3 separate regions of the Homo sapiens genome follow, and all the other regions are reported to be linked to region 1. Evidence: microRNA targets listed by miRTarBase, many of them from high-throughput screens and not tested one by one. Region 1 holds a microRNA gene; each other region holds the end of a gene's coding sequence.
The links. Region 1 holds the annotated microRNA hsa-miR-570-5p (AAAGGUAAUUGCAGUUUUUCCC, at 2,653-2,674, opposite strand). A microRNA usually pairs through its seed, bases 2 to 8, with sites in the 3' UTR of a target mRNA and lowers its output. Matches are read on the target gene's strand: a 7mer-m8 pairs with bases 2 to 8, a 7mer-A1 pairs with bases 2 to 7 and ends in A, and an 8mer does both.

Region 2: the mRNA of VMA21 is a reported target of hsa-miR-570-5p. Seed matches in the 3' UTR shown: 7mer-m8 at 3,568-3,574.
Region 3: the mRNA of MAP3K21 is a reported target of hsa-miR-570-5p. Seed matches in the 3' UTR shown: 7mer-m8 at 5,700-5,706.

What each region holds. Positions count from the first base shown.
Region 1 is chr6:99,120,092-99,127,297 of GRCh38, reverse strand. It overlaps MIR548AI (microRNA 548ai), which reads right to left and starts at 2,689; the gene lies at 2,602-2,689.
Region 2 is chrX:151,404,006-151,411,211 of GRCh38, reverse strand. It overlaps VMA21 (vacuolar ATPase assembly factor VMA21), which reads right to left. Exons shown (of 3, transcript NM_001017980.4): 3 at 1,848-6,296. The coding sequence ends at 6,154. Among named protein-coding and RNA genes, the nearest start is that of VMA21, 10 kb to the right of the region's middle.
Region 3 is chr1:233,381,480-233,388,685 of GRCh38, reverse strand. MAP3K21 (mitogen-activated protein kinase kinase kinase 21) reads right to left here. Exons shown (of 10, transcript NM_032435.3): 10 at 3,538-6,381. The coding sequence ends at 5,975. Among named protein-coding and RNA genes, the nearest start is that of MAP3K21, 57 kb to the right of the region's middle.

The sequences.
Region 1 (7,206 bases):
CTTTAACTCACTGAAGTTGTTTTTCTCTCCGTGAGTGTGCAAAGTTAAATAGGGGCAAAAAGCATCACCCAGTTTTTAGACAAAGGAAAGTGTGAGGAAGGAAGCTCCATGGTCACTTGCTGAATAATGGGCAACATTCACGCAAGTCTTCATGATAAGTTTGTTTGCTTCCATGTCTATTAATATAAAAGCCAAATCCTTCCTGTCTTTGGTTCTTTTTCTTATTAGCAACGTTCAAGTTTCTCTCTGGCCAAGTTTTACGTCCTACTTTGTCCACTTAATAATTATATTGACAGTCCAGCTGTGGCAGAATATTTTATTTTGGCCCAACTCTCCTGGTAAGAATAACTAGAACAGCTGGATAAATATTAACAACTATTTGTCTGAAAGCACTGAAGAACAACTGTGGCAGCAAGAACTGGAGATGACCAAGATCCTGAAAAGAGGGGAAGTGCAGAGAGGTGAACCTGACATTGAACATCAGACATTTGCTCACTGAAAAGTGGCAGCTGGGAGGCTGAGAGGCTGAGCAGAAAGTGGCGGCTGAGAAGCAAGAAAATGAGAACAGTCTTTCACAGGTCTGGGTAGATAACTGGTGGTCAGGACCCACCAAGGCAAGGAGTGCTAGTAAACACTTCAGGACTGCTGAGTTCCCTGAAGCAAATATTTTTTCTATTTGATGCTCTTCCTTTCGCCATTCAAGTTGCTAATAAATTCAGATGTTTGTAATAGGTTAACCCAATTTCACTATTCTAAACAACAATAAAGAGCTGAAAAAAAGCTACTATGTTGGTGAGAAGAGGGTGCTTCGTGGGGACAATTCTTGGCTCCTCTTAGCCTAATTGGGCTCAACTTTGGAAAGTCAGTCTCTTCATCAAGTTATAGGATTAGAAAGAGATCAAATAGAAATGCAAGATTTTAATTCAGATCTCATAACTGAGAGTCTGGGTTGAGTTGCCCACTGCTTGGATGTTTGCAGGCTATCCATGAAGAAATATTAAAACATTTTCAGTTAAACAATAGGGCAGTGGTAACATAACTTACAATACATGCTTTTTCAAACCATGTTGTATGTCTTAGGCTGAATATGTTCAGAATGCCATTGATTTAGATACTTTATTTCTGTGTTTGAATACCAGAGTAAGACACCTATTACCATAATTGGAAATTTCCAAATGTAAAATTTCTTCAGAATCCCAATGCTGAAGAGTACATGGCTTTAAAAGATAGCATGCAATTTTGTTTTATTGGTTTTCTTTTATGCATGAAAAATTGTCAGTCTTGTGCATGACTGCCATCAATACCCCATTATTGGTTAGAGATTAGAGAGGATTTTGAGTACAGGATGTCTTGGTTCTGGTAGAACAGATACACTCAGAGTAAGGAAGTGACTAGGTAAAATGTGTCAGTGCATCTCTGTGTAATTTCCTCTGAGTTGAGCATTTATTTAAATGAAATAAGTAAGGAAGATGCAATACTGACTTGAAAGCTTAATTTTTTTTAGATAAACTTTGTGTTTGGAAATAATTTCAATCTTGCAGAAAACTTGTAAGAATTAGAATAGAACAAGGTACATCATAAAGTCTTTAGCCACATTTACCTATTAACATTTTACCCAATTTGTTTTATTATTTGTGGTCTCTCTTCATATCTACATATATCTCTATAATACAATATATGTAAATGTATATATACTCATACTATTTTTCTGAGCCATTTAAAAGTAATTTACATGTATATTATGGTCCTTTATCACTAAATATTCCAGGGCACATTCTTAGTACAGGGATACTTTTTTTTTTTTAAACTTTTTTTTTTTTTTTGAGATGGAGTCTTGCTCTGTTGCCCAGGCTGGAGTGCAGTGGTGCAGTCTTGGCTCACTGCAACCTCCGCCTCCCGGGTTCAAGCAATTCTCTGCCTCTGCCTCCCGAGTAGCTGGGATTATAGGCACCTGCCACCACACCCAGCTAATTTTTTTTAATTGTTTTATTTTTAGTAAAGATGGAGTTTCACCATCTTGGCCAGGCTGGTCTGGAACTCCTGACCTCGTGATCCACCCACCTCAGCCTGCCAAAGTGCTGGGATTAGAGGTGTGAGCCACTGTGCTCGGCCTAGTACAGGGATATTTTCTTATGTAATCATAGTACAACTATCAGCTTCAGGAAATTTAATATCGATACAATACTTTTTATATGGGCTAGTGTCCATATTTTAATTTTGCTAATTGGCTCACTAGTGGCCCTTGTAGCATTTTGACTCCTCAATACAGGATCCAGTCTAGGGTCAGGTATTGCAATTAGTTGTCATGTTTCTTTAGCCTCCTTTAATCTGGAGCATTTCCACAGGCTTTGTCTTTTTTGACATTGGCGTTTTTGAAGAATACAGGCCCCCATTTTTTTTTATATATATATATAAAACACCTCTCATTGTGTCAGATGCTTCCTCGTGGTTAGATTCTGGCTAACCTGAATGTGTTCTTGGCTGACATGCACCGTAGCTGATGGGACACATCCAGAGGTGAACGATGGGCATCTCCCCCTCATTGGTGATGTTAATTTTGATCACTTAGTCAAAATGTTTCCTGGGTCCTCCATTATATAATTATTAGGTTGATGCAAAAGTAATTGTGATTTTTTTTTCCATATTTTAAATGGGAAAAACTGCAATTACCTTTGCACCAACCTAATACTGTATTTCCCCTTACAACTAATAAGCAATCTGTAGGGAGGCACTTTAAGACCATTCAAATGTCTTGCCTTGCATCGAAATCTCCCCTCAATTTTGCATCCATTGATGATTCTCTTCTGATTTGATCTTTGCTCTAACGATGATGTGCAGGCTTTCTAATAGTGAATATCAGGCAGCCAAAAGGTGATTCATTTTATAATGTGTGTAGGCTTAGTGAGGGTGGCATAGATTGGAACTCACTAGAGCTCAGAAGTCAGTTTATTCCCTGTTTTTCTTCTTTTTGTCCCATCAACATGGATTGATCCACACGTGGGCTTCTGAGGGTTTCCTTCACTTAACTTGTAACTTGATTTTTCTTTCCCTGACCCCCTAACCCTTGGGAAAGGAAGGGGAGGGGGCAAAAGAAACACCTACCTGTGAAGTATCAGCAAAACAGTGTGTAGAAAGAATAAATAAATAAATAAAAGAAGGCAGGCAGCCAACTCTGAGGAGCTTGCAGCCCCGCCCCCTGCCGGGGTTTGCACTTCGGGGCCCACAATTCGCACATTACCACGGGATAACCAGGAAGATAGCAGTGCCGCGCCTCTCTGCCTCGGGGGGGGGGGCTGCTTTTCCTGTAGCGGAAACTATTTGTGCTCCCCAGTAAGTCCAGGAACAATCTCCACTTATTATACCAGCTCAGAACCCAGGACTGTTTACAGCCTCACGCAGACAAGACACTAACCCTCACTCATTACTGTCGCTGTGGGGATTTATCTGCACCACACTCTCCTTGCATGTGGCCCACATTTTCATCCAGTAAAATCACATGTTGTTAACTCAATATATACAGTGAAAACAGCATGAATAATGGAACCTTTAATCCTTATTTCTCAAAATTAGATTTCCACTTTATCCTTCTCCCATTTCCTCTCTTTTAAAAAATTCTTCTCAGTGCCAAGCAATAGATGTTGTCCAGACCTTAACTCTAAGGAGATTCTATGGTATTTCTATTCCATTACCAGGTACCTTTGTGGATTCAATTTCTGGGTGGATTGATTGTATTTCTTTCCCTGGTTGCTTCACATGTGACTCATGAGAAATTAACATCATCCTTGTCACAGATGATGAGAAAAAGAGCCCTATTGACACGGGGTACGTTTCAACAAATGTAATAAAAACTTTAGGTCTGATTAAACTCACACCTGTAATATCAGATGTGAAGACACACTCATACCCTGTGTCTTTATCTCCGTCTTCCTTGGTAAACAGATTTATAGGGTTGGAATTATTTTTGGTATTAAATCAGAAACCAACAATACTAAATCAAACTTCAAGGATGGGGTTTGTCAGAGACTGGCGTGTGGCATTAAGACCCCTTTCTTAACATGCATAGTATTATACATTATGCAGACAATACGTCCAAAGGTTGTGCTAAGGATATTCAGCTTGGTAAATTTTCATTATTCCAGAGATGGGCTGGTAAAGCAAAATGAACCAGATTTACATTGACCATTAAGAGGGTCTACATGCATAGACTGTCTATTTCTTTTAAAGGTTTAGAAATGGTTGCCCACATTTTTTAAGTACCGTGGCTCTGAATATCTGAGTAAACACACACACACACACACACACACATATATGCGTGTGTGTATATATATGTGTGTGTGTGTTTGTGTGTATATGTAATACATATGTACATTAAGATATATGTCTCTCTATATATTTGTGTATGAATCAATGATTTGATTCCATGGGTTTTATGGAGCATGTCATAGTGGTTAAGAGGCCCATTTTGGGAGTCCACTGAGTTCCAGTCCTGACTCTGCCCTATTTGTTAGGTAGCCTTGGCAAAGTTTCCCTATCTGTAAATGGGGATAAATGTGAACCCTTCTTGCAAGGCTGTCGTGTAGACTGAATGTGGTAATATATGGACAAGGCCAGCATGTGTCTGGTGTATGCTAAGTGTACAATCACTATTAGTTGTCATTACCAGAGAGGCAGTTTAGTATGAAGTGGATGAATTGAACTGTGACTCATATGATTCTGATCAGGAACTACCATTTTGAAAAAAACCAATTAAACATAATAGCTAAAACGAGATTGACCTACATTGATCAGGAAGGTGGCCAAGAAAATAGATTGATTAGGTGTGGCCTATTCATTTCATAAATTTAAGTCTATCTTAATGATTTCTATCAAAATACCTTATAGACTTATCTTGCCTCATGGTCACTCCCAAATTTTAAAGAGATGGACAAATTTAAAAGAGATTTTCTTTCATGTGCTTCTGTCTTTGGATGGCTCATTTTTTTAAAACAAACAAAAGGCTTTCTTTTTCATGTACTCGAAGAGATGTAAAGTCTTTATTAGTGAAAACTTCATGACGGAAAATAAGTTGCAGCTCATTACTGTTTAAGCCTTTTCATCTTACTGGGCTTTAACGGTTTGACAATAAGGCTGTCCATGCACCATGGTAGCCCTGGGGAGGAAAGCTGGGGACCTGTTCCTACTGGCTGTCAGCATTTGCTCAATTTAGAGACTGTCAGTGAGGAAGGGAGAAGGGTGTGTGAGCAGGTCTGGTGCTCTGGTCCAAACAGAACACCCAGGTGCACCATCAGTTACCAGAGCAGCCAGCAGCCAGCCATGCCCTGGCTTGTCTGTTCCTGTGGTACCTCACTCCAGTAACACCTATCACTTTGCACCGTCAAGGCATTTCTCAAGCATTAGCAAAACCTCTTTGTTAAGAAAGCAGACATTCCTGTTTTTACTTCATACAGAGGGAGATAAAGGTGGACGGAAGAAAGAGATTCACTTCATCAACCGAATATTCCTGTGTTAGCCTTGGCAGAGGAGCCTATTCCTGAAAGCAGGAGAGGTTGATTTCTGCAGTTTCCGCATCCAGTTGACTAAGCCTTTCTTTTAACCAGGTGACAAAAAATACCCCCACATGCATATAGACTCCTATAACTTGTGGTTTCAGGATCTCTCTCTCTCTTTTTTTTTTTTTTTTTTTTTGAGACAGAGTCTCACCCAGGCTGGAGTGCAACGGCTCAATCTTGGCTCACTGCAACCTCTGCCTCCCAGGTTCAAGCGATTCTCCTGCCTCAGTCTCCTGTGTAGCTTGGATTATAGGGGCGTGCCACCATGCCCGGCTAATTTTTGTATTTTTAGTAGAGACACAGATTCACCATGTTGGTCAGGCTGGTCTCGACCTCCTGACCTCATGATCCACCCGCCTCGGCCTCCCAAAGTGCTGGGATTACAGGTGTGAGCCACTGCACCTGGCCCAGTATCTCTTATGTGACTTTGTCAGACCTACAGGATCACTGAAGCAGTCAAGATAGACACATGTGTGCATGTGCCCACCCATGTGCATATGATCTTGAGGTTAGAGAATGATGTTCACCCATGAAGTTCCAAATAAAAGAAGAGCAGACAGGGTCAAGGACGAGTTAAAGATGGTTATCTTTTGTGAAGTTCCTGAATTTACTGAAGTTTGTTAGTGTTATAGCCTGACCGTTCGCCTATGGAGTCTTCTCTTTTGTTCTTTAAAGAGGTGATGACTATACAGTTAGCATTGGTTTTCTCATCTGCCTTATGGCAAAATAATCTGTTCTACCTTCCCCCTTTCCACCCCCTTCCTCTGTGAGTACAGGGCCCTGAGATGTGGTAAATCGCCGCTGTCCCAGAACAATCCACTGCTCTGTGTACCCTGTGGAGATCAGTTTTGGTCATAGCTGGCGGGTGCCCATTAGCAGATGGACAGTTTTACAAGTGGCAGCATTACTTCATTTCTAGCCTGTTCAGTTCAGACCCTGCAGCAGATTTAATGACTGGATGTGTGATTGCTTTAGCAATGTGTCATTTTCTCTGAAACTGAATTTGTTTTAAATGGTGTTGTAAGGTTTCAGTAGTTGTGGTGTAGGATGTTGTCAATGCATAATTGTCATGAAGCCAAGGGAAATGAATAAAATGGGTAATCCATCCAATTCTTATTAATTAGTGATAGGTTTTTAACAATATCCAGGCCACTGCTCTTTGTCTCAGTGCAACCTGTCTTCAGTGCTGTCTCACTTACAACTTCAAGGCCAGGGGGCAAGTTCCATTTAAACGAAGCTGCATAGCATGTAGCACATTTATGCTGTTTACATAGTAGTTGGTTATTTTGATGAAGGCCTAGCTATAATTTCTCTGTGGTAAGGATGTAATAAGATAATATTTAAAAACTTTAAGCAAGTTTATATTTAATTATATATCTTACTCTGTCTTGAAAGTGGGAAAAACAGATACAGAAAGTACCATAACTTTAAAAAAAAGATAGTTCAATAAGATTTCAAACAGTTAAATATATGAAATTCAGAAATAAATGCATACTTCTGAATTGCACTGGATTTAGTGTATATTGTGACTCTAGGTCAGAGTCACAGAATTAATTTGGACTTTGGGAAATACCTTTATAGGAGAGGAAATTTGTCCTTTTGTTATGACTTAATAGCAAAGAAGCTGTATTGATGTTGCAAATATGAGTTGAGGTCA
Region 2 (7,206 bases), not on the chromosome of region 1:
TATGCCTGATCTATTATCTTTAAAGGAAACTTCTAGTTGCTTTGTGGCAAAGTGACCACAGGTGCAAGAAGGGCAGAAGAAACCAATTTGAGGCTCCAGGCGAGGAGTAAATCTGGGCTGGCCCGAAGTGGGAGCATTGAAGGTGGTGAGATGCACACAGATGCAGGGTGTGCCATTTGTAGTATCCCTTCCCTCAGGGCTGCTGGATCCTCTTTTGGAGGAAAGCATCCCTGGGTTGCCAGGTTGCGAACTAATGTTCTCCACCTTCATCCTGTATTTACCAAAAGGGCTAACCTCAATGCATCTTTAATGGACGCAAGAGCAGGGCGTATGTGAAAGGAAGTGCAGGCACGTAAGCAGTGAAAGGTAATGGGGGGCAGGGAAGCCAGAGGGTTAATAGCACAAATGTGCCTAGAAACCATTTCTGCTTTTCTCCATTACCTCTCTGGTTTAGAAACCTCAAATTCACATACTCCTATTGGTTTTCCTTCTCTCCAAAGTCCACAGCAGTGAGGATTCCAAATAAGAAAAAGGCATCACAGGCACAGCAGTGGCCATGTCTATCTACGCACGCCTCAGTTGTGTCTTAAGTTGGCTGTTCCCCGTACTAAAATTTTCATTCAACATCATTCATTAGCACTGAAGCAAAGTCAATATGGATTGTCAGGAACCCAGTAAAGGTCTCCTTATTTTAAATTGCACCTTCGATATAGCATTATCAACATTCTACCTTTGCCTAATAAGGTGTGTGCTTACTTCAGGCTTTATACAAACATCTTCAAGTCCATCATTAAACACATACACTGGGAGGCACAATTCTAAATCTCCAGCAGTAGTTCTCAATCCAGCTTCATGTTGATCACTGCCTGTTCCAAAATTTTTTTTTTTTTTTTTTGAGACAGAGTATTGCTCTGTCACCAGGCTCTCGGCTCACTGCAACCTCCACCTCCCAGGTTCAAGTGATTCTCCTGCCACAGCCTCCTGAGTAGCTGGAACTACAGGCACGCACCACTGTGCCCAGCTAATTTTTGTATTTTTAGTAGAGATAGGATTTCACCACATTGGCCAGGATGGTCTCTATCTCTTGACCTCGTGGTCCGCCGCCTCGGCCTCCCAAAGTGCTGGGATTACAGGCATGAGCCACCACGCCCTGCCCCAAAGAGCTTTCTAGGCCCCCACCCCCAGAGAGTCCGATTCAGAAGGTCTGGGTTACATTTGGGCAATCAGTTATTTTTAATAAATCCTACAAGGTGATTGCAGTAAACTTTCAGAACTGCTGTCCTGTAGTTTCTGCAATGCCATTACCTGTTTCCTGAGTTCCCTGGACATCTCATAACCTATAAAATTTGTTAATACTAAGACGTCTCAAATGTGTTTGGGAAGGGGATATTAACATTTATTAGTAAGAATTAGCTGGAGTCCTCAGAAGCACAGGAAGGAGCTGGAGTGCAATCAACGGGTGATTAGAGGACAGAGGACACAGGACATTGGTCATGAGGGGGTGGCATGTGGACGTCGTCAGGAATTATCTATTTCCACATTTCTCAACTCTCCTTTAGGGGCATTTGAAGCCCACCCCAGACGAAGTATAACCAGCCCTTTACAGCTCAACACCCCTCCCCCACACTCCCAATCAGTTTGAGCATTTCTGGTTGACATTTACTGCATAAAAACTTATCCTTGACAGCTCTCTATATAATCTACATAGCACAAACAGAGGCCAACGAACAAATTTTTTAAAGTGAGCTCTGTACATATTCTACATGTTATAAAATGAGAAGCAGGCAAACAAATTTTTAAAAACACAGCGGTTAATAAAACATTAATTGAATCAGGACACAGCAAAGTAGCACTACAAACACTTTTTTTAATGACATCAGATGGTACATTTATACAAATTACAAGCTACAATATAGTGAATACAAAATCCATCCAGAAAACGGTTAGAAAAGCATCACTTAACAGAAGTAAATCGGATTCAAGTAGCTAAAGAACTCAAGCCCCCCATTTTGATGATTATACACGGCTTGAAATGCAGCACATCCAAATCCTCCCCCTAGTCAGGGCACTATTCAATACTACAGCATATTCAATGACTCTAGTGATGTAAAGATTCTAACACTTTTAGCATCGACGTCAAGAGACATCTCGTAACAGGTTCACTATGCAAAACTCAAATGAGAATGTGTGAACGTTCTTTGCAAACTGTAAGGTGCTGTGCAGATGTTGTTAGCTATTGCTATTATTACTGTTCAGTGAGATTACACTGAACGTGGGGAAAAGGAAGACTACTCTGTATAACTGACAAATATGACTTACAGAACATCTTAAAAGGAATGCAGATATTACTTTCAAATACACATAGCAACAACACAGGCAAGGAAAGTGTGGCCAGGAGTGATGTCGAGGAATTCCTATTTTAAGGAATATATAAAGGATTAAGCTATTCATAGATTATGTGTAATATTTATCATTAGATTCCCAAAGTCCCTGAAAATAATTTATTTTTAAGGTGACCCTTTCCCCCTGAAAAGGGAAAAAGAAATCTTGTCAGGTTACTAATGTGCTGCTTCAGCCAGCTCTTGTAAAAATTATCTTAAACATAGGAGTACAGTCTGAATTAATAGTTATACTAATCTGGTGGGTGACACAGAGTGCTTGACAGCAGAGAAACCTGCCACTGACCTCAGACAAGTGACAAATTCTGTGTCAGAGTTGAACCATAAGTTTACAACTTCACTTGGGCATAAATTAAACAATAAACATGAACTTGTCTAGAGATAAGAAATACACACTAGGTACATCTAAAATCGGATTTAAATCCTTTTTATGTACTTTCGGGTTTCATCTTTCTTTGTATATACCCTACTTGTTTAACTGATTTTAGTGGTCTCCTTGGGTATTCTAACTGTATACATAAAATTGACATGAAAATGGAAAACAAACGCCAAACAAGTCAATTGGTTGTTTCTTTTGGCAAAGCTGATGACATTTTCATGATGAAAATGTTCCAATTATTAGGCCAGGCACGGTGGCTGATACCTGTAATCCCAGCACTTTGGGAGGCGGAGGCGGGTGGATCACCTGAGGTCAGGAGTTCGAGACTAGCCTGGCTAACATGGTGAAACCCCGTCTCTACTAAAAATACAAAAATTAGCCGGGTGTGGTGGCACGCACCTGTCATCTGAGGTACTCAGGGGGCTGAGGCAGGAGAACTGCTTGAACCCGGGAGGCGGAGGTTGCAGCGAGCCGAGATTGCGCCCTTGCACTCCAGCCTGGGCAAGAAGGGCAAAACTCCGTCTCGAAAAAAAAAAAAAGAAAAAAGAAAACAAAATGTTCTAATTATTACAATGTATTTCTGTTAGATTTCCATGAAACATGGGGATTTTTAATGGCAGGTTTAAATTTTTTTTCACTAACAACCCCAAACCAAATTCTACTGTTATATGTACAATGGTATCCATTTGAAGAACTAATGACATCAGATACATTCTACAGCAGACTTTTCATTTCTCAACACAAATGAGAAAAAGGACTACATTCTCCAGGGCCAAACAGGAGGTGAGGAAGGTAATGTGTTACCGTAAATAGGGTTAAATCAGTAGTTTGGACTGACACTTCAAGTTATATCTCCTAACTGAGGTTATTCTTACAATCAGTTTTCAAACAATAGGGAACATATTTCTACCTTAAAACATGTATAAGGGCTCAACTGTAGCTTTCCTTTCTATACATCTTGAAGTATATACATTGTGTAAAAGGAAACTAGTGAGACATTTTGAAAAATAAATCTATTTGCCAAATACCATATGTTATTTAACATAGTTAAAAACAGCAGCAAACTAGTGAGTTAACAGTTAAAACTCTAGGAAAAAACTGCTTTGAAAACAAGCCTATTTTGTTATAAGCCTAAATATCAACCCTAGCATTTGATTTTAACCTTCAAACATTTGGCGCTTTTTCCAAGAGGAAATTACAACTGCCTTTGCATATGCCCCTGGTTTAAATACTTGCAGAAAAATACCCATGTATCATCACCTATTCAGCAAATGCCTGAAACCAAAACAATAATCCAACATTGGACAGTAACATTTTACAAACAGCATAAGATCCCAAAAGCACAAGAAATACCTTGGCATTATATAAAAAGAAATTAGGTGGACAATTCTAAATACAACAATACTTCTTAATTAGGGACCATCTAGAAATCTACCACATACTACCCTAGACTCAAATGTCATTATACTAAAATTGTAGTCTTTAAGCAAGAATTAAAAACAGTTCCATAATAATCATACTGATCTTTCACTTTTCTCAACAGTTAAACACAAATGCTATTTGACTTTTATGACTAATCATCCCTCTATTCCTTTAGTCCAGTTTCACAACATAAAAAATAAATGTGAACAACAAATCGGTAATGGTTTCACATACTTAAGCAAGAATCCTAGTATTAGGATTATCAGTAACAGAAAATTTGAATTTTAAGAGAATAAAGATAGAATGTGCTTATTTAGAAAATGGTCAATAAGGCCGGGCGTGGTAGCTCACGCCTGTAATCCCAGCACTTTCGGAGGCCGAGGCGGGTGGATCACCTGAGGTCACAAGTTCAAGATTAGCCTGGACAACATGGTGAAACCCCGTCTCTACAAAAAAATACAAAAAAAAATTAGCCAGGCGTGGTGGCAGGCATCCGTAGTCCCAGCTACTTGGGAGGCTGAGGTGGAGAATCACTTGAACCCAGGAGGCAGAGGTTGCAGTGAGCCGAGATTGCACCACTGCACTCCAGCCTGGGCAACAGAGCAAAACTCTGTCTCAAAAAAATAAATAAATAAAATAAAGAAAAAGAAAAAGAAAATGGCCAATAATCACTCATCTGAAAAAAATGCAAATAGCTGTCAGGAAAAGCTGGCAGAATTTGAACTTGTAAGCTAAACTTTTAGTGTGTATCAAACTAGCATTAAGGAATGGCTTTCAAAAATGAATACGGGATATCAACTAAAATAGAGGTTATTTTTAGATGGCAACATTATGGGGAATTTTGATTTTTTTTCCTGTTTGAATATGTATTTTTCCAGTTTTCTACAAAGAACATATACTATGATTTTATAATTAAAAAACAAATACTTGTGGGAGTGTTTTTAGATTGCACATAATTAGTACCAAATAACTAGAAAGAACACAGACTAAAGATACGAAAATAAAATCAAGGTTTTTTTCCATCAGATATGCCCAAGGAGAATACTTTTTGGATGAAAAAAAAATGTTTTCCAGATTGTTTCCACTCCTAACATATGCAAAAATGAACATATTTAAATGCAAATTCCTATCATATACACTACAATTTTAAAAAATAGTAAAAAAAACAATTTTAAATGGAGCTTCCTCGAACCTTTTAATTGAAGCCTAGCTTCAATGTTGAATGAGGAAGCAAAGTATCTCATTAAAAAGTTGGTCTGCAAAGCACAAAGCTGGCCTGCAAGGGGACTTGAAGGAAGCAGGCTGAGTGTTTGAGTAGTGAGATCTTTGCTTTGCTCTTTAGATCCTTCAGTAAGCTAAGGTCCTTTTACCTGAATGGATGTAATTTAGCCTAGTTTTCCCATAAAATAATGTAATGGATAATTCTTATTGACTAGGGATTACACTTCATGTGAAATTCCTCAGTGACATTCAGATTAATTCCAGTGTCCACAATTTAAGCAACTTTCCATAGGAAATTAAAATCCCAAATCCAAGGACCTGGTATTTTCATGCTAAAGAAAGCATTCCAGCGTAAAGTGGAGTTTAATTTGCTTCACTGTGTGCATCTTAATATATCCAAATGAGTAAAACTCAAAAGCAACCGTAAGTCAGAATACTATAAAACATGTTTTGTTGAAAGAAGATAAAATTCCTTCCAGAGTATTGTCTAATTAAATTAACATATTTCTTTGTAACTAACTTTTCCAAATTCTCATTTGCAAATCAGATTCATACAGTTAAAACTGAATATACAAACCAACATATTAGAAAGATCAAAATTTACATACTCAAACGTGACTCCTTAAGACTGACTTTAACATGTTCTTTCAACTTTATTCAAATCAGATGGCCCCCTCCAGCATTTATCATTTTAAAAAATGAATTTAATGCTATAAAAAGGTGATGTTCACTTTAATCCTGTTTGCCTTCACGCCACTGTCGTGAGCCTTCATTCCAGGCCACATACACAAAGAGGGCCAGCACCACATGGACGGCGACCACTGCAACAATAGCAGCGTAAAAATAGCTGTCCCTATTGGACATCCCAAGGGCGCCTATCAAGAGAAAAAAAACAGTTTCCATTTTATTGCAAAATTTACCAAAGTACAAAAAAAAAAAACAAAGCATCCTAATTTTTATGATGTATTTATTTAACTAGTCAGGCAATTAAAAAGTAATATTTTGGGTGGTAATGAATAAAGTATTCACTAAAAGATATGAGTACCTTCTATATATTAAGAACATTATGTTGGCCGGGTGCAGTGGCTCACGCCTGTAATCCCAGCACTTTGGGAGGCCAAGACGGGCAGATCACGAGGTCAGGAGATGGAAACCATCCTGGCTAGCACCGTGAAACCCCGTCTCTACTAAAAATACAAAAAAAATTAGCCAGGCGTAGTGGCAGGCGCCTGTAGTCCCAGCTACTCGGGAGGCTGAGGCAGCAGAATGGCGTGAACCTGGGAGGCAGAGCTTGACGCGAGCCGAGATCGCACCACTGCACTCCAGCCTGGGTGACTGAGCGAGACTCCGTCTCAAAAACAAACAAACAAACAAACAAACATTGTTTTAAACAAAACCATAATTATAAAGACTTCAGGCCGGGTGCGGTGGCTCACGCTTGTAATCCCAGCACTCTGGGAGGCCGAGGCGGGTGGATCACCTGAGGTCACGAGTTCGAGACCAGCCTGGCCAACATGGCGAAACCCCGTCTCTACTAAAAATACCAAAAATCAGTCGGGTGTAGTGGCGGGTGCCTGTAATCCCAGATACTCAGGAGGCTGAGACAGGAGAATCGCTTGAACATGGGAGGCGGGGGTTGCGGTGAGCCGAGATCGCGCCATTGCACTCCAGCCTGTGCAACAAGAGTGAAACTGTCTCAAAAAAAAAAAAAAAATTTCAACATCAAAAAGGGGACTTCATTCTCTCTTCCTTCCGTTATCTGACACTAAAGTCCATTCCCCCAAA
Region 3 (7,206 bases), not on the chromosome of region 1:
TCTGCATGGAGCATTCCTCATCCAGTGGACATCCTGGCTTCCTCAGACACTTCCCTGACACCTCCCACCCACCCAAGATTAGATGAACTCCTTTAATGCTATCAAAGCCCCAGTGACTTCACCTTTTTTTAACACTCCCTTCGCTTGTTGTCAGAATTGGCCGCATAGCTTGTGAGGCCCTGTGAAAGATAAAAATGAGGGCTCCCTCTTTAAAAATTATTAAGAATTTCAAGATGATGTTCACAGAGCATGAAAGTCAGGCTCAGGGACCATCTGAGTGTGAGGCTCTGTGTGACTGCACAAGTCACATGATGTCCATGCAGTTGCCCTGAGCACAGTTTCTCATTAAAACCATCCAGGCAGGGGACAAGCCTCATCTTCCTTGCTCTCCGCTACATCTGGTGTCTCTTTCGTGGTGCCTAACACAGTAGCCACTAAACGAGTTTGTCAGTGTGTGGAAGCTCCTCAATCTAAACTACTTACAGGAAGTCCTCACTTAACATTGTCTATAGGTATTTGGAAACTGTGACTTTAAGCAAAACAAGGTAACACAAAACCAATTTCACTACAGGTGAATTAATAAAAACAGCAGTTAAGTTCCTAGGGCATATTTCTGGTCACGAAAACACCACTAAATCGCTAAATAAAGACCCCAAACACTTCTAACACTAAACATTGAAATAAATGTTATCTATACATACATCTAAGATTAATGAAAACAATTTAAGGTAATTATATACCCAGTGATTCTGGTTCAGGGTCGCAGGTGGCCAGAGCCCATCCCAGCAGCTCAAGGCACAAGGTGGGAATCAACCCCATTCTATGGCAGGGCACACTCACACACCCACACTCTCACACTCAGACAATTGAGACACACCAGTTAACCTGGCATGCATGTCTTTGGGATGTGGGAGGAAACCAGAGTCCCTGGAGAAAACCCACGCAGACATGGGGAGAAAGTGCACACCCCACAGACAGCAGCCCTGGCTGGGAATCAAATTTTTTTCCTCGTTAATATTATAACAGAATGACATTGAATGAAAAAATGTTATGTGTGGACCTGCTATATTTTGCTTGGTTGTAAAAACAATAGCTAGTTTTGTTGTTGTTGTTGTTTGTTTGTTGTTTGTTTTTGAGATGGAGTCTTGCTCTGTTGCCCAGGCTGGAGTGCAGTGGCACAATCTCGGCTCACTGCGAGCTCCACCTCCTGGGTTCATGCCATTCTCCTGCCTCAGCCTCCCGAGTAGCTGGGACTACAGGCGCCTGCCACCACAAACAATAGCTAGTTTTTGTTCCACTCTCTGGTACCGATTACATTGTTTCATTCACAAATACTTCATCTTTCACTATGTTTCAGCATGTTGATCTTTGCAGAAGTAAAGAATAGAGACAGCTTAAGCCCAATTAAATTATTTTATGTGTATATTGCAGTTCTTACATAATTTCACCATATTTATTGTCTTAGTCCATCTGGGCTGTTATAACAAAATAACATAAAGTAGGTGGCTTCTAAACAACACACATTTGTTGCTCACAGTTCTGGAGGCTGGGAAGTCCAAGATGATGGTGCTGGCAGACTCTGTGTCTGCTGTGGGCCTGTTTCCTAGTGTATATATAGCAGTTTCTCACTGTGTCCTCACATGGTGTAAAGGGATAACAGCTTCCTTCAGGCCTCTTTTAAAACAGCATTAACCCCATTCATGAGAATTCATGATCTAATTACCTCCCACCTCTTAATTCCAAAACTTTGATGGTTACGATTTCAACATAGGAATTTTGAGGGACATATTCAGACCATGGCATTTATGAACCTATTGAACAGAATACCTCATTTCTCTGAGTTGATCTATCAGATATGCATATTTTACTCCTTTCTATTGCATTTTCCATTGTATTAAGTGTTATTAGCTAATAGTGTTTTATTTTTAAATAAGTACTGTGAAAGTTAATAATACAAATTGGGCAATTCTTGTCATACATACTCAGTTAAATCAGAACTGAGGGGCCAGAGAGGAAAACATACGTGGGGGACATAGCACCTACTCCACGAATGTATTTTCTCCAAGCCCAGCTGCTGAAATGGCCTGCTGTCACCCCAGGGCCAGTTTTACCTGGTAGCTGCTGAAGCAACAATTTGTGACTCTAAGACTTGTTTTAATTCCTGCCATGACTCACCAACCAGAGCTTGCCAGAGTCCAAAAGCTTCTCTAGTGCCAATGAGCTTTCTTTCAAAACAATATGTAACAATTCTTTAATAAAACTCCTGTCTCTTTGTTCTTTGGACATACTGAAGATCACCTGGTCTCTGTGTATGTCCTGAATTGCAATTCTTGCTTCCTAAATAAAATGTTTCAAATTTCAATATTTATCTCTATATCTTATTTAACTTCAATGGTACTCATACATTTTTAGACTTTTGACTTTTTGATGAGAGAGAAACTACCTTAGCTTTAGATAACATTTACAAAGCTCATTTGCAAGATGTCCTCATCTTCTACACCATGCTTACAACTATTAACCACAGGTGTGAACAGGTAGATGGTGATCACTTGACTCAGACTGGGTCTTTGGAAATTTACCAAACCTTTCTGTGTCTGTTTCATATCTAATGCGATAGGAGTAGTATTACTTATCTCACAGTTTGTTTTTTTTTTTTTTTTTTTTTGAGATTAAGTCTCACTCTGTCACCAGGCTGGAGTGCAATGGTGCGATCCCGGCTGACTGCAACCTCTGCCTCCCAGATTCAAGCAATTCTTCTGCCTCAGCCTCCTGAGTAACTTGGATTACAGGCGGGCACCATCATGCCAGACTAATTTTTTGTATTTTTAGTAAAGAAGGGGTTTCACCATGTTGGCCAGGATGGTCTCGATCTCTTGACCTCTTGATCCGCCCACCTCAGGTTCCCAAAGTGCTGGGATTACAGGCGTGAGCCACCATGCCTGGCTTTCTCTCACAATTTTTATTAAAGAGAATTACAGGAGTTGTCTTCTATAGGCACCTAGGAGGGTTCCCCATACTTAACAGATATTCAATGCACATTACGTTTTGCTCCCTCCCATGTGGTGGGGTAATGCTATGATCTCCATGAAGTCCTGCGATCTGCTTTCCTCATTCACTCAAGCTTTTATCACTTAGTAAGAATTTCTACATGTTAAGTGGTGTTTGAAATTCCTCTGATTTAAACATAAAATTAAACAATAAAATCAACATGTCTCCTTAATCACTGAGATTTTTTTCTCATACTCATTTCACTCTGCAAAAGTGTGTCTTCTGAAAAGCTGGACTTGCAAAACGCTCACCATGAAATATAACTTTTCAATGCATATGTAAACCAAAAAAATTTGAAATAAAACATTTCATTCTACCTTTTTTGATGTATTTAATTGAATGACTCATTTAGTGATTTTCAGTTTAATATATTTAGCAGGTTAATACCTGGCTTATTAAACAATAATCTTTATTAACACAATTTTTCTTATTGAATACAAAATAAACCATTGCAAACTATAGTCACAATAATCAAGAGAGGATCAAAGCTACTGAGCAAATAGACCAGCTATAAAAGTTTATTAAAAAAATAGACAACATATGTAAACATATTTTTCAGTCACAAGGCTTCATAATACAGCACATTAGGCCCAGGCCTTAAATCTCTGCAGTGAGAGTACCTTAATTTTTTACTAACAGTAATTGACTTATCTTTCAGTGAACATTAAGCCTACACAAAAATAAATAACCAGATTCTGCTAAGTTTACTAACACAGAAAATTGCAAATGTACAATAGATTGCAGCAAAAGTTAACTATCTGCAGTAACATGTGAGATTGAATTGTTATATTACAATTATTTTAATACAGCTTCATTTTGAAATTCATCATAATGTAGAGTTGACTAAAATAAAGCTAAAGGGGAATAATAACAGAGATAAACAAACACCCAGATCACATACACTCCCCAACACACACATGCAAACACACATTTACTAATATGCATGCACACACACACACGCCAACATACATGCACACACATACAGGGATGTTTTGGTAGAAGTAAAACTGAGGACATAGTTTCCATCCTTTTTCTTTCATGTATTGATGATTTTAGGTATATATTTCTCTACCCTTAAGCTGGAAGCTACGTGTTCCAAAAGGACTGAACACAAAGCAATCATAGTTTCAAATGTGATAACATTTTGGGAAAACCAAATCTCTGTTACATAATTCAATAACCACACAAAGTGAAGCCGAATCATAGAACAGATGATAAAACAAGAAAACGTATTAAGTATCTGAGACTTTGCTGCAAGAATCCAGAATGCAAGATCGTTTTCCTTAGGGCAAAACTTACCATGTTAATACAATCCTTTCATACTGTTTCTCATCTGCTGGATATACCTGTTAGGCAACCACAATGCTGCAAAATTGCCAAATAATATGATTTTCCTTTTCTTCTATTATAGGTGAGATATTTTATCACACAATTGAATTTATTTTAAATTGCTGACATTTCAGTTATTCAGTAAACCTTAAGCAAGGTGCAATTTTAAATGAAATATCAAGCAATGTTTTTAATTTAGTTTTTCATTGTTTGGAAAAATTTAAATGTCGATTGTCTGTCTTCTGAAGAGCCACATTCTAGAGACAGAAGGGAAGCACAATACATTTAACATAAGAAACCAAGGCAAATTTACCAAGCTCTCGGGTAGCCATTTCTGCACCAATAACTCTGGATTTGTATCATATATGTATGACCATAAAAGTGATTCATAGATAATTTTATTATTTAAATCCTGATCTGCTATTCAAAGATCCATTTCTGAAAATAATTCATAATATAGTTGTCGTTTCCACCATATGAGCTTATTTCAACAGATGTCTAACATTTATCCACAATTAAATGAAATGTGAAATAACAACAACATACTTAACTTCTAATAGTACTGTACTGCTGTTCCTTGAGTTGTCAGTGTCTTTGGGATTATTAGGATAATTATGCACTCAAATAGAGAAAATAAAATTAAGACACATGACTGTTTACAGTACATGATATCTGTGAAGAGCTAGGTATCTGTAACAATTTTTAAAAGTTCTACTGGAGAATGAAAAAGCTTTCCACTTCTGAATATCAAATAAAGGGCTACTGATGGAGGAAGAATGTTTTCTATAGGAAAAACCTAAAGATTAGCCTCACTCAAGGGGCACACCATGTGGTCTCAGTCAAATGGCAAGGACTGAACTTTGAACATCTATTTTGGAGTTCTAATGAATAAAATGCTTATAACTTATATTCAGTAAAGCTTTTATAAGTTACATTCCGTATAATTTCCTCAGAGAGAAATATCATTGCATAATTTAAGTGAGAACTGGACATATGCATTATCGGCCCACAGCCAAGGTTAGGTAGTTTAAACAGGACTTTATATCTATTCCAGTCGTCAGACTTTTAAGACCTTTACTTACTAATATCACATTATTCTTGCCAAGAAACTAAAGCTCTTTCTTGGCTTTTTGTTGCAAAAATGACAATTAAGAAAAGAAACTACAAGAAAAAAAAACAAGAAACAAGACAAGAAAAAGGAAAGAAAGGAAAAAAGAAAAAAAAGGAAGGAAAGAAACAAAAATAGTGAAGCTCATTACAATTTCTGTTGTGTGCAAATGGACAAAGGCATAAATGAGAACAAAAACATTAACATTGTGCTGAAGGTAATTCGACCCAGCATAGTTTTCATTGGTGCACATCTCTTGTTTTACACTTTTGTGTATTCCAAGTTATAAGAAAAGAATCCAGAGGAAAAACAATAGACATGGCTAACAGCAATCATATACATTTTTTGAGAAGCTGGATATATCTTACTAATTTAGGAACATGGCCACAGCTTTTGAAAACACAGCAGCATGAAACAGTTCAAAGGTAGATACATTGTGTTCATTTGTTCACCTTAAAAAAATGCTTAAACAACAGTAAGGCACTTAGTTTAAGACAGGAATTCTTTCTCCAGTTCATATATAGATGGCCGGCTGGTTTTGCTCCTCATTCTGCACAGTGGCACAGTGTAGTCCCTGCTCTGACCTTCCACGTCAGCATCCAGTAATGAAGGCACATGGGATTTAGTTCTCTCCTTGGCAGCGAGGAATTGGGTGGGATGTGGTCCTGGGCGACCCACTACACAGGCAGTCTGTGCCAGCTGAGACACTGCTGTCTGTGGGTAAGCCTGAGGCAGATCTGAGCGGCTTCTCAGGGAGGCAGGGCGACGCTGAGGCACGATGTGGACAGTGCTGTGCTTCTTGGGTGAGACCTCCCTTGGCAGATGACTGTGAGGAGCAGGTGAGGGGCAGAGTGGCAGTGCAGAGGCTCCAGTGGCTGAGATAATAGTTGCACCAGCTGGTTGAGAAAGCCAAAACAGTATGCAGTTAGAAAGAAAATGAGTTCTAAAACAATGAATATCAAGAAAAATAATTATGATGGCAATTCAACAAAGTGATAGCTTTAAAATGAGCTTCAACAAAAAACATGCATTCACAGGCATGATCATAGCACACTGCAGCCTCGAACTCTTGGCCTTAAGGACCAAGGAACTCTGCCTTAGCCTCTAGAGTAGCTGGGACCACAGGCATGTGCCACCACACCTGGCTGAAGTCCTGCAAGTTTGCAAAGAGTACTTCAACCTATGGAAATTATATTTGTAAACAGAGCTAAATAATCCTCACAGTGCTTAGGCCAATAAAAATTATGAGTCATTATAATGATATTATAACGGTAGCTTTCAAAATGGACTAGACTGGAATAAATTTAAGAGGTTTAAAAATGATGGTCAACATGATTAAACTTCACTGTAGATTATGATTTGACAAAACTGATGAAAATGGAAAAGCAGTTAGACTTTTACACGTCACCTCTTTTCTTGTTTGTACTGAAGAACTGAATAATGTTATTACCACTTTAGCAAATAATTATTGGCTTATAAGTTAGAGAAAAATATGCTTTCATATGGGATTACTGTGCTAGAATTTCTCCTTGTGCAATTATAAATTACCAATACTTATTGACCTACAGAAAGATAATAAACCAATTTATCTAAAGGCAATGAACAATAATATAGAAAATATCATATCCAGATATAATATTTAAAAAGAAGTAAAGGAAAAGATAAAAAGGATGAAAGCAGTTTGTCTTAATATAGCTTTATAACCAATGCTAGCATAGCAT